2 separate regions of the Homo sapiens genome follow, and region 2 is linked to region 1. The links come from fine-mapping of genetic effects on gene expression. A gene starts in region 1. The other region holds a variant in brackets. All regions are shown on one strand. Distances are between the middles of the regions.

Evidence for each region. PIP is the estimated chance that this variant, and not a neighbour inherited with it, causes the effect. A credible set is the group of variants that fine-mapping cannot tell apart.
Region 2: its variant is the best candidate, but not a certain one, in a credible set for the expression of TARBP1 in whole blood (TOPMed, PIP 0.58).

Annotation. Positions count from the first base shown.
Region 1 is chr1:234,476,076-234,481,455 of GRCh38, reverse strand. TARBP1 (tRNA guanosine 2 -O-methyltransferase TARBP1) reads left to right here and starts at 2,277. Exons shown (of 30, transcript NM_005646.4): 1 at 2,277-3,283. The coding sequence starts at 2,353. RefSeq lists silencers at 2,161-2,350, 2,381-3,180.
Region 2 is chr1:234,412,067-234,417,446 of GRCh38, reverse strand. The region is part of intron 22 of TARBP1 (tRNA guanosine 2 -O-methyltransferase TARBP1); the gene reads left to right. Among named protein-coding and RNA genes, the nearest start is that of COA6-AS1, 41 kb to the right of the region's middle. The variant C/T (reference allele first, on the strand shown) is at 2,484.

The DNA.
Region 1 (5,380 bases):
TACAGGTGTGAGCCACTGCGCCCGGCTGATTGAGGTAAACTTTCTGCAGAGCGAAATGCATAGATCTTAAGGGTTCAGTTCAAGGAGTCTTGACAAATGTGTAACAACACCCTGATCAACATAAAATATTTTCATCACCCCAGAAAGTTCCCTTGTGCCCAATTCTAGTCAAATCTCTACTCCCTATATGCAACTACTGTTCTCATTTCTATCCTTCAGATTACTTTTGTCTCTTCTTGGATTTCATATAAATGAAATCACGAGGATGTAAACGTTGTGACTGGCTTCCTTTGTTTAACATATTGTTTCTGAGACTTATCCATGTAAAGCGGATTAGCAATTCATTGTCTTATTGCTGGGAGCATTATTATATAGATAGATCACAATTTTTTATTCATTCTTCAATTTGATGCACATGTAGGTTGTTACCTAACACCTACTAGGTTGTTATAAGCTTTTGGCTATAACGAATAATGTTGTCAAAAACATTCTTCTGCAAGCTTTTTTTTTTGAAACATGTTTTCATTTATTTTAGGTAATTACCTGGGGGTGAAATCGCTGAATCATAAAGCAGCTATATTATAACTTTACGAGAAACAGTTTCTAAAGTGACTGTACCGTTTTCATGCCCACCAGTAATGTATGAGAATTCCAGTTGCTCCACACCCTTGGTCTTTGCCGTTTAGTGTTTTCGAGCTTTTACATGTTAGCCATTCTCATCAGTATGAAGTGGTACCTCATTGTGGGTTTAATTTGCATTTCTCTGATGACTAATGATGTTGAACACTTTTCCAAGTGCTTATCATTTGTGTATCTTCGTTTGTTAAGTGCTCAAGACATTTACCCATTTATATTTGTTAGATATATGTTGACAGAAACAATAGTTTTCTGCACATTTTATGTTGAAGGTAATTGATATTTACTGACATGTTAAAAGGGCTTAAAATAGAAACATTTATGCATTTTGTCAATGAAAAACGGAATGACTGAAATATGAAAAAAGTCTTGCCTGTGTAATGTCAGATAACCTTAAAGTCAGATAACTTTATATAAAAATAACTGTAAATTTAAATAACTAATTTTTGTCTTATCCATTATGTTATTATATGTCAAGCTCTTTGAAGTTGGGACCCTGTTTTCTCTATTGACTAAGAGGCAGATCTTTGTGTTTAGTAGCGAAGAAAACCCTATGTCACTGATCTAGTTTGTCTCAAATTGAGCCAGGAACCAAATCCACACCATGCATGCCGAGGTGAGGTTTTCTGTTTCTCTATTTAGCAATGGATGCTGTCAGAAATACAGAAAAGACAGACACAGGGACTATTTTTGAGTTTGCACATGGGAGCACATGCATTGTGCAGGAGGCTCTGCATCCTGGAGTCATCTTGGGCACTTGGCTGTGAGGGCTGGCGTGGGCATCTTGGTTTTAGCTGAATCCTAGCACATTGCTATAGGTACCTCTAAGGCAGGAGAATAGGGCCTGGAGGCAGGGAATCCAAAAACTCCCTAGAACCAAATCAGATAGAAACACTTCAGCTATGACAGGAAATATCCTCTTCATTTACATAGGGAGTACACCAAGTAAATAACTTTGTAACTTCATTTTATCCTCTTCAGTTACATAGTGTGTACACCAAGTAACCAATTGAAACCTCTATAGGTATTTAAACCCCAGAAAATTCTGTAACCAGCCCCCCTTGAGCGGCTTGCTTGGGTCTGCCCCCACCCTGTGGAGTGTACTTTTGCAATAAATCTCTGCTTTTGTGGCTTCATTCTGTCTTTGCTTTGTTTGTGCGCTTTGTCCAATTCTTGGACCTGGACACCCTCCACCGGTAACACTTCTCACTCCTGGCCTTACGTCTAAATCATTCTTGTGTTTTCATGACTTATTTTTAATGCAGATGTCCAGAACCAATTTCAGACCTACTGTGTCAGTCTCTTTGTGGATGGTGCCCATCATGCAACGTTTGGAAAATAATCTAAAGTGATTCTGCTGTGCACCTTCTGTGAACTGGTTTATGCTCACAGGCACGCCTGATTTAGGGTCCTGGGCAGACCAACCTCCAATCAGGAATCGATGAAGCTGGTGTAGATACTACATTAACTTTTAACGAAGGCCTCGTTTCTCCTAAAAATAAGAGACCAGGTGGGTTCTATCTAGGCAGGGTTGGTGGCAGGAACCCAAGGGAAGCTGAGCTGCACCAAGCCGGGCTGGGATCCCCCTCTCTGCGGCCGCGCGCCCGGCTCCGTCGGCGCACGCGCACGTAGGGGCCGGCCGGTCCTGTGCGCACGCATCGCACACGCCGGCGCCTTCCTTTGGGAGCCCGGGCCGGTGGCGCGGGCGCTCGGCAAATGGAGTGGGTGCTCGCGGAAGCGCTGCTCTCGCAGAGCCGGGACCCCCGGGCCCTGCTTGGGGCGCTGTGCCAAGGGGAGGCATCCGCGGAGCGCGTGGAGACGCTGCGCTTCCTTCTGCAGCGGCTCGAGGACGAGGAGGCGCGCGGCAGCGGGGGCGCAGGCGCGCTCCCGGAGGCGGCGCGCGAGGTGGCTGCAGGGTACCTCGTGCCACTGCTGCGGAGCCTGCGCGGACGCCCCGCGGGCGGCCCGGACCCCAGTCTGCAGCCTCGCCACCGCCGGCGCGTGCTGAGGGCGGCGGGCGCGGCCCTGCGCTCGTGCGTCCGCCTGGCCGGGCGTCCGCAGCTGGCGGCCGCGCTGGCTGAGGAGGCGCTGCGCGATCTGCTCGCCGGGTGGCGCGCGCCTGGCGCCGAGGCTGCCGTGGAAGTGCTAGCAGCCGTCGGGCCATGTTTGCGGCCCCGCGAGGACGGGCCGCTACTGGAGCGCGTGGCGGGGACCGCCGTCGCCCTGGCGCTGGGCGGGGGCGGGGACGGGGATGAGGCCGGGCCTGCCGAGGACGCGGCGGCGCTGGTGGCCGGGCGACTGCTGCCAGTGCTGGTCCAATGTGGCGGGGCGGCGCTGCGGGCCGTGTGGGGCGGGCTGGCCGCGCCTGGGGCGTCCCTGGGGTCCGGCCGCGTAGAGGAGAAGCTGCTGGTCCTGAGCGCCCTGGCCGAGAAGCTGTTGCCCGAGCCCGGCGGCGACCGCGCCCGCGGCGCGCGCGAGGCGGGCCCGGACGCCCGGCGCTGCTGGCGCTTCTGGAGGACGGTGCAGGCGGGGCTGGGCCAGGCGGACGCCCTGACGCGCAAGCGAGCGCGCTACCTGCTGCAGAGGGCGGTGGAGGTGTCGGCGGAGCTGGGGGCCGACTGCACCTGCGGGCCCCAGGAAGGAAACGGTACCTGCCTCTTTGCCCCCCAGCCTAGTGCTACCTACTTGGCTGCCCCAGAGGGGAGTCTTCCTGCTTCTAAAAACTAGCTTATCGGGGTCGTCACTCCGATCCATGCAGAATTTGGTTATTCCGCGTTGCTCCCCTAAAGCCTGAAAACCTTTGGAACCCCTTCTCGAGGGTGTTCTTTGAAGTCACAAATCACTGCGGTTGGGAACGTTCTAACCCAGAGCCGGTGGAATACAGCACCCCTGGAATAGTTTAGGAAGATAATGGAGCCCGTGCAAGATTTTACAGACCCAAATCTGCACTATATCATGGTAGATTCAACCCAATAGAAACGGTTGATATCTATCAAGTTGAAAGAAAAATTATTTGTTATTTATCTGTACTGACCAGTGAATTAGTGAATTGAGTGTTGAGTGTTAGAATTAAGCGTCATAGAGGCCATCACACTCTTCTGAAATTTCCCCTGGTAATTAGGAACAGGATTTACTAATATTTGTTAAACATGTTTCTTAAGTCGACCTTTTGAGTGTATTTTTGCCATTGATTTAATAGAATGAATCAGATTTTATTTTTTAACTGTTTGAGCTTTGCTCCCTACTATGTGCAAGAGTAATGAAACAGCAAGGCCTCCCTTCAAGTTGTTACGTTACTGTTGATTGGTTTGACTTCACTCATGTTAAATTTGGGTTTAAACTGTCAAGTACAAAGTAGATTGACTCAAAATTGTCTCAATAGAATATTTCTACTTTTTCAACGGTAGCTGACCATTTATTACAGGTAAAGGATTTTTGTTTGGCTGAAGTTATGAGGTTATATTTTCAAGTAATTTTAAAACATTAGAGAGTAAATATTTGAACAGTCCACAGATAGGTGTGATCATCCCTGAGAGTTTTCACTGGAAAACATTTTTTAAATCATCAAAAATTAAAACATTCATTTATTTACATGAGTCTGTTATTTTGCAGTTTTGTTTGTTTGTTTGTTTGTTTTATGGAGTTTCGGTCTTGTTGCCCAGGCTGGAATGCAATGGCACAATCTCCGCTCACCGCAACCTGCACTTCCCGGGTTCAAGCGGTTCTCCTGCCTCAGCCTCCAGAGTAGCTGGGATTACAGGCATGCGCCACCATGCCCCACTAATTTTGTATTTTTAATAGAGACGGGGTTTCACCGTGTTGGTCAGGCTGGCCTCAAACTCCTCACCTCAGGTGATCTGCCCGCCTTGGCCTCCCAAAGCGCTGGGATTACAGGCGTGAGCCACCGCGCTCGGCCAGTTATTTTGCAGTTTTAGGGATAAGCAATGGTGCTTCCATGCTTCCTGCAACTCCCATTTCCTCTGTTACAGAAAGCAAATCCTGTGGCCTCTTAACGGAATATTAGGGGATTTACCCCTATGTCTTGACATAGTATATCTTAGTTATATCATAAAATATATTGTCACAGTTAAAATTTTGGTTAAATGTGTGTTCAGCATTTATAAAATTATGACTGTAAATGCTGCTTGCAGGTGATCTATGTAGGAAACTGATCATTTTTCTCTTCCTGCAAGTTTTTCATATGATTTTGACGTTTTAAAATGTGTTCGGTTCTTTCTATACTTACCACGAATTCCTCCTTAAATTCTTAACCAGTTGACTAAATCTTTCCTCTACAAAATCAGATCATCAGAGGTTTTCCTGAAGAAGTTTCTCCCAGAGTCCCCTTACATGCCCAGATGTCGCAGGTTTCTCCCTGTGCCTGGTGCACAGACCTCACGCTTACCCCGGGATTCCCTTCACCTGGGTGTTCTGTTGAGTCTCATTTCCTGTAGTTCATATCTTCCTCTTTTTTGCTTTACTCACTTGTGTCAGTGCAGTGCATTCTCTAGCAGTTTCCTGAAATAGGATTTTTTTAAGGTCTTGTTTGTCTGATAATTCCATCAAATGCTCCTTTATGTCTGCCATCATGTTTTTCTCTCATTTCCATTTGACGCTTTTGGAGTTTCTCTCCTGAAAATCCCCATCTGCTCATCTGTTTATGCATATTGTTTACCTTTTCCACAAGATCCTTTAGCATATCAATTATAGTTATCTGCAAGTTCGATACCTGGACCATCTAAGT
Region 2 (5,380 bases), 64 kb after region 1:
TGATCTTGTCTTCTTCTTTGTGTGAAAATGGAGGTGCATTCCTCAAAATATCTCTTTCTCCATTTCTTCCTATTTCAGGAAAGATATCCTTATTCTTTTTTTTCACATCTATCCCCTGTGACCTGTTTGTGTCTCCTTTGGGACCTCACTGAATTCTTCACGCTTGTTCTGTTGACTTTTCCTCCACCCAGCTATCATCCAGTGTCTTCCTTTCTTTACTGTTAAACTTCAATGTGTGATCTTTGCCTTCCTCAAATCACTGAGGTCCACTCCATTTTCAACAGTGATACATCAAGGATTTTATCTGAGCTGCAGACAGCCTTTCTCTTTTCCTCCATGCTCCCCACTTTAATTTCACGCCTTCGCATTGGTAGTGGCTTTCTCCACAGCTGATCCTCACACTGCAGTCAACTTCATAATTCCCTTCCTATTGTGCTGATAACTTCTCTATTTCCTTCACATACTTGCTTCCCTCTCCCAACCCTTATGCTTGGTTTTATCTGAAGAGTCGCTGGTTAGCCTGTCTGCTTCTCTTTCTGCACTTCCTTAGCATAGTAAAGCCCATCTCGGCCGGTCCCTGCTTCTCCAGCCACCTGCAGGGCCTTTCCATAATCACTTCAAACTTCACCCTGTGTTAAACTAAACTGGTAACAGCATCTGGCCCTGAAATTGGCTCCCCTTTCTGATGTCTTTCATTCTCCCAGTCTCCTAGCTTAAAACCTGGGTGTCACCATAAGCAGCAGAAACAGCAGCCTCACCATAATCCTCAAAGACAGGTTGGAGTTTTTACCCTTATGAAGAAAACAACGATTAAGTGAGTCGTCACACCACTAAGAAATGACAATGCTTTGGCCAGGAGTGGCGGCTCATGCCTATAATCCCAACAGTTTTAGAGGCTGAGGCGGGAGAATTACTTGAGGTCAGGAGTTTGAGACCAGCCTGGCCAACATGGTGAAACCCCGTCTCTACTAAAAATACAGAAATTAGCCAGGTGGGGTGGTGCACACCTGTGGTCCCAGCTACTTGGGAGGCTGAGGCAGGAGAATAGCTTGAACCCAGGGAGGTGGAGGTTGCAATGAGCCAGGATCACGCCACTGCACTCCAGATGGCATCAAAGTGAGACTCCGTCTCAAAAATTTTCATCTCTTTCCAGGCTCCTCTGGCTCTTCTTTTTCATCTTCGTGTTCCTATAATGAAGAAACAGATTCTGTTATTTTTCCTTGAGTTGCCTTTTAGATCCATAGCTTTATTAATGTAGTTTGTTTATGTCACCTCTCAAATGGGTTAGCACTGCCCCAGGAATTCTCACAAAGGGCAGGTTGGTTCTGGTGTACCCCCAAAACTTCCTGGTGCTCCCATCCACAGTAGTGCCAGTTGTTACTTTTATTTGCTTAGCTCAGCCTCTCACTCGTCATTAGACCTTGTATATTCTCTTCGAATCTGATTTTACCTGTGGACATCAGACAGAGTTTTTGATGTAGGCAAAGGAAGCTTTTGCTGATGGAATCAAAATGGGATTCAAAAAAGGTAGTGGGGAAGAGGGGAGTAGTAGGTAGCTTACAGAACACCGGGAAAGCTACAGAATCAGAACTGGAAAATTGGCAGGAACAGGGGAGGCTCAGTGGCTTCCAGAAATGCAACCACAGGCAGGCCAGAGAGAGCTAGTTCACTGGGGACATTACCCCACTGGACACACGGTGCCTTCAGCAGGGCTTTGCTATAGCCAGCTGTATACCTACTGTCTCTGCTGCCTGCAGTGGAGGAGGGTTTTCTGTGAGCTCTGCTTCTCTAAGTTGTAAGTTCTCAATTTAGGAATCAGAAATGGAGTCTTTGGAACCGGGTCAGGTGCCTTCTTGTTAGTGGCAAGGAGGCTGGGAAGATGAATACCTGGCATTTTTCAGTGTCCCCCAACACTCATAAGATGGAAGAATTCCCTAAACTTGGAAGGGGATTCAGGATAGATATCAAAGAAAGGGGCAGTTGTCCACTACACCCTTTTCCTCCTTTATTCAAAGCAAATTACCTTAACCTTTATTTTTTTAGAGAAAATAACAGTTGCCACCTAGGAATACCTAAATCTTCTCTAGAGCAATCAGACAAATCTGCCTATGTCAGTATCCATCTGAGATTTCTTCCTTTTACCATAAAGGAGTAGAATCTTCTCCAGTGCCAGAGTAATTCTTCCACTGAGTCTTTGGCCCTCTTCCCTCCTGTCTTCTCAGGCATTTGTTGCTATCAGCCTGTCTTCTATCCTCAGTCTCTCCTTAGCCAAATGGTCCCATTGGCTTTTCAACAGGCTCGAGTTGCATCCATTTTCTGTGGATATTTACACTGGATGTTTTCTCGTCCCTCTCCTATAATCACCCTGGCTCTCTACTATTTCATCATCAGACTTCCTGAAAGAGGTGCCTGTGTTCCAGAGGTTTAGTTTTTTTTTAATTTACTAATTTTATTAATTTTTTTGAGACAGAGTCTCGCTCTGT[C/T]GCCCAGACTGGAGTGCAGTGGTGCGATATTGGCTCACTGCAACCTCCGCCTCCCAGCTTTAAGCAATTCTCCTGCCTCAGCCTCCTGAGTAGCTGGGACTACAGGTGTGCACCACCATGCCCGGCTAATTTTTGTATTTTTAGTAGAGATGGGTTTTACCATGTTGGCCAGGCTGGTCTTGAACTCCTGACCTCAGGTGATCTGCCCGCTTCGGCCTCCCTAAGTGCTGGGATTACAGGCATGAGCCACCGCGCCCAGCCTTATTTTTTCACATCCTTCCCAACCCACTCTTGAATCCATGGTAGACCAGCTTCCAGTTCAGTTACTTCTCAGAAGACACTGTTGCAGGAGTCAAGAGTGACTGACTGACGAGTCAGTGGTCAGCCTTTGTCTTCTTCTGTCAGCCACATGCATGCTGCTGACCATTTTCTTATTCTTGCTTCTAGTGACACACACTTCTCTGGTTCCTCCTGCCCTCTTTTCTGTGTCCTTTCCAGGCTTTTCTTTCCCTGCCTACCTCTTAAATGGTGGTGCTTCTCTAGAGCTAGGCTTTTTTTATTATTATTAATTTCTTATTTTTATAGTCAGTCTTATCTGTGTTGTGGATTCACATATTACCTAATGTGAATGACTTACTCATTAGTATTTGTATGCCACACATCTTCCCCTGACTCTAGATCAGGAGTTGGCAAGCTACAGCCAAATTTGGGCTGGCAGAGTTATATTGGAACACAGCCATGTCCATGCATTTTCATATTGTCTGTGGCTGTGTTTGTGCTAACGTGGCAGAGTTGAACAGTTGCAGCAGAGACTGCGTGGCCCACAAAGCCATGTTTTTGTGTATTGCTTGGCCCTTTACAGAACAAGTTTTCTGACCCTTGCTGTAGACGTTTTCCTTGTAGATGATTTTCCCTTAGACTAAATAACCTAAAACGTAGATGTGTAACACTGAGTGCCTTATTTTTCCCCTCAAACTTGATCTGCTTCCTACTCTAGTGAATACCACCACCATCTATACAGTTGCACAAACCAGAAACCTTGACACTTTCCATGCTCTGTGTCTGATTCGTGACCAGGTCCTGATCTTTCTGCCTGAATATTTCTGAGTTCTCTCTCTTCTGTCCCTGCCATTGTATCTCAGTCGACGCTACTGTCATCCTTGCAGTGGTTCCCTCACTGGGCTGCCTACATCCACTCTTGGCTCTGTTTCCATCTGCTTTCCACCCTGAAGCCCAGGCAGGGTTTCCATGGTGAGAATTTCAACAGGTGACCCCACCTGCTGAACACAGTGTCTTACGTCGTCTCAGGATGAAGACTATGCTCCTCGGAGTATCCCGTAAGGCTTGCGTGATCTTAGGCCTCTTTCCTCTCTAGTCTCTCTGTGTGGTCTATTCTCAATTCACTACCTAGGCACACTGATTGTCTGTTTTCCGTTGCTAGAACTCTCCAAAGCTTAGCGGTGTAAACAATGTGTTTTGTTTTGTTTTTGCAATGGAGTTTCGTTCTTGTCGCCCAAGCTAGAGTGCAATGGCACAATCTCGGCTCACTGCAACCTCTGCCTCCCGGGTTCAAGCGATTCTCCTGCTTCAGCCTCCCGAGTAGCTGGGATTACAGGTGCATGCCACCACACCCAGCTAAATAATTTTTGTATTTTTAGTACAGATGGGGTTTCACCATGTCGCCTTGGCCTCCCAAAGTGCTGGGATTACAGGCGTGAGCCACTGCTTTTTTTTCGTGATGTGTGTGTTGTCTGGGCCTGGCTGGGCAGTTTTGCTCCTTGTGGTGTCTGCTGGGGCTGGGACTTCCAAATGGCTCCTTCGCTCACATATTTGTCACCTCAGCTGCAATGGCAGGAGCAGCTCTGGTGGCTAGGCATCGCTCCCACTCTGTGTCTCCAGCAGGGTAGCTGGACCTCTTTATATTCAGTTCTCCAAGAATGAGCTTTCCGGCGGGTCGGGGGTCGAGGGGGCGCAGGCGGGTCATGTCCTGACATGCAAGTGCTCATCCAACCTCTGGATGCATCAGGCTTGCTAATGTTCACCAGCCAAAGCAAATCACATGACCATCCCTGCTGGGGTGGAAGGGGCCTGCATCGGGCATATGTAGGGAGGGTTGGTTGACCGGGGGTCACCCGAGATAACTGAGTACCACACTGACCTTTTCAGTCTTTCCTGCTTATCACCAGTCCTTTTGGTTTCAGGCTATTGCACATGTTGTGCCCTTTACACAAAATGGTCTTCTTTCTTCTCTTTATCTAGATAACTCTCTCTCCCTTCACATCTCAGTTCATGTGTCTTCTTTATTTATTTTTGAGACAGAGTCTTGCTCTGTCACCCGGCAATTATAGATCACTGCAGCTTTGAACAACTGGGCTCAAATGATCCTCCTGCCTCAGCCCTCTAAGTAGCTGGGACTACAAGCACCTGCCACCACACCTGGCCAATTTATTTTTAAATTTTTATAGAGGTGAGGTCTTGTTATGTTGCCTGGGCTGGTCATGAGCCACTGCACCTGGCCCATATTGTCTTTTTTTTTTTTTTTGAGACGGCGTCTGTCTCTGTCCCCCAGGCTGGAGTGCAGTGGTGTGATCTCGGCTCACTGCAACCTCCATCTCCTGGGTTCAAGTGATTCTCCTGCCTCAGCCTCCCAGGTAACTGGAATTACAGGTGCCCACCACCATGCCCAGCTAATTTTTGTATTTTTAGTAGAGACATGGTTTTACCATATTGGCCAGGCTGATATCGAACTCCTGACATTGTGATCCACCTGCCTCGGCCTCCCAAAGTGCTGGGATTACAGGCATGGGCCACAGCGCCCAGGCCCATATTGTCATTCTTAAAGGAAGTTACCTCCCCAAGTATTTAGATCCCCTTATTTTAGGTTTTCATAGCACATA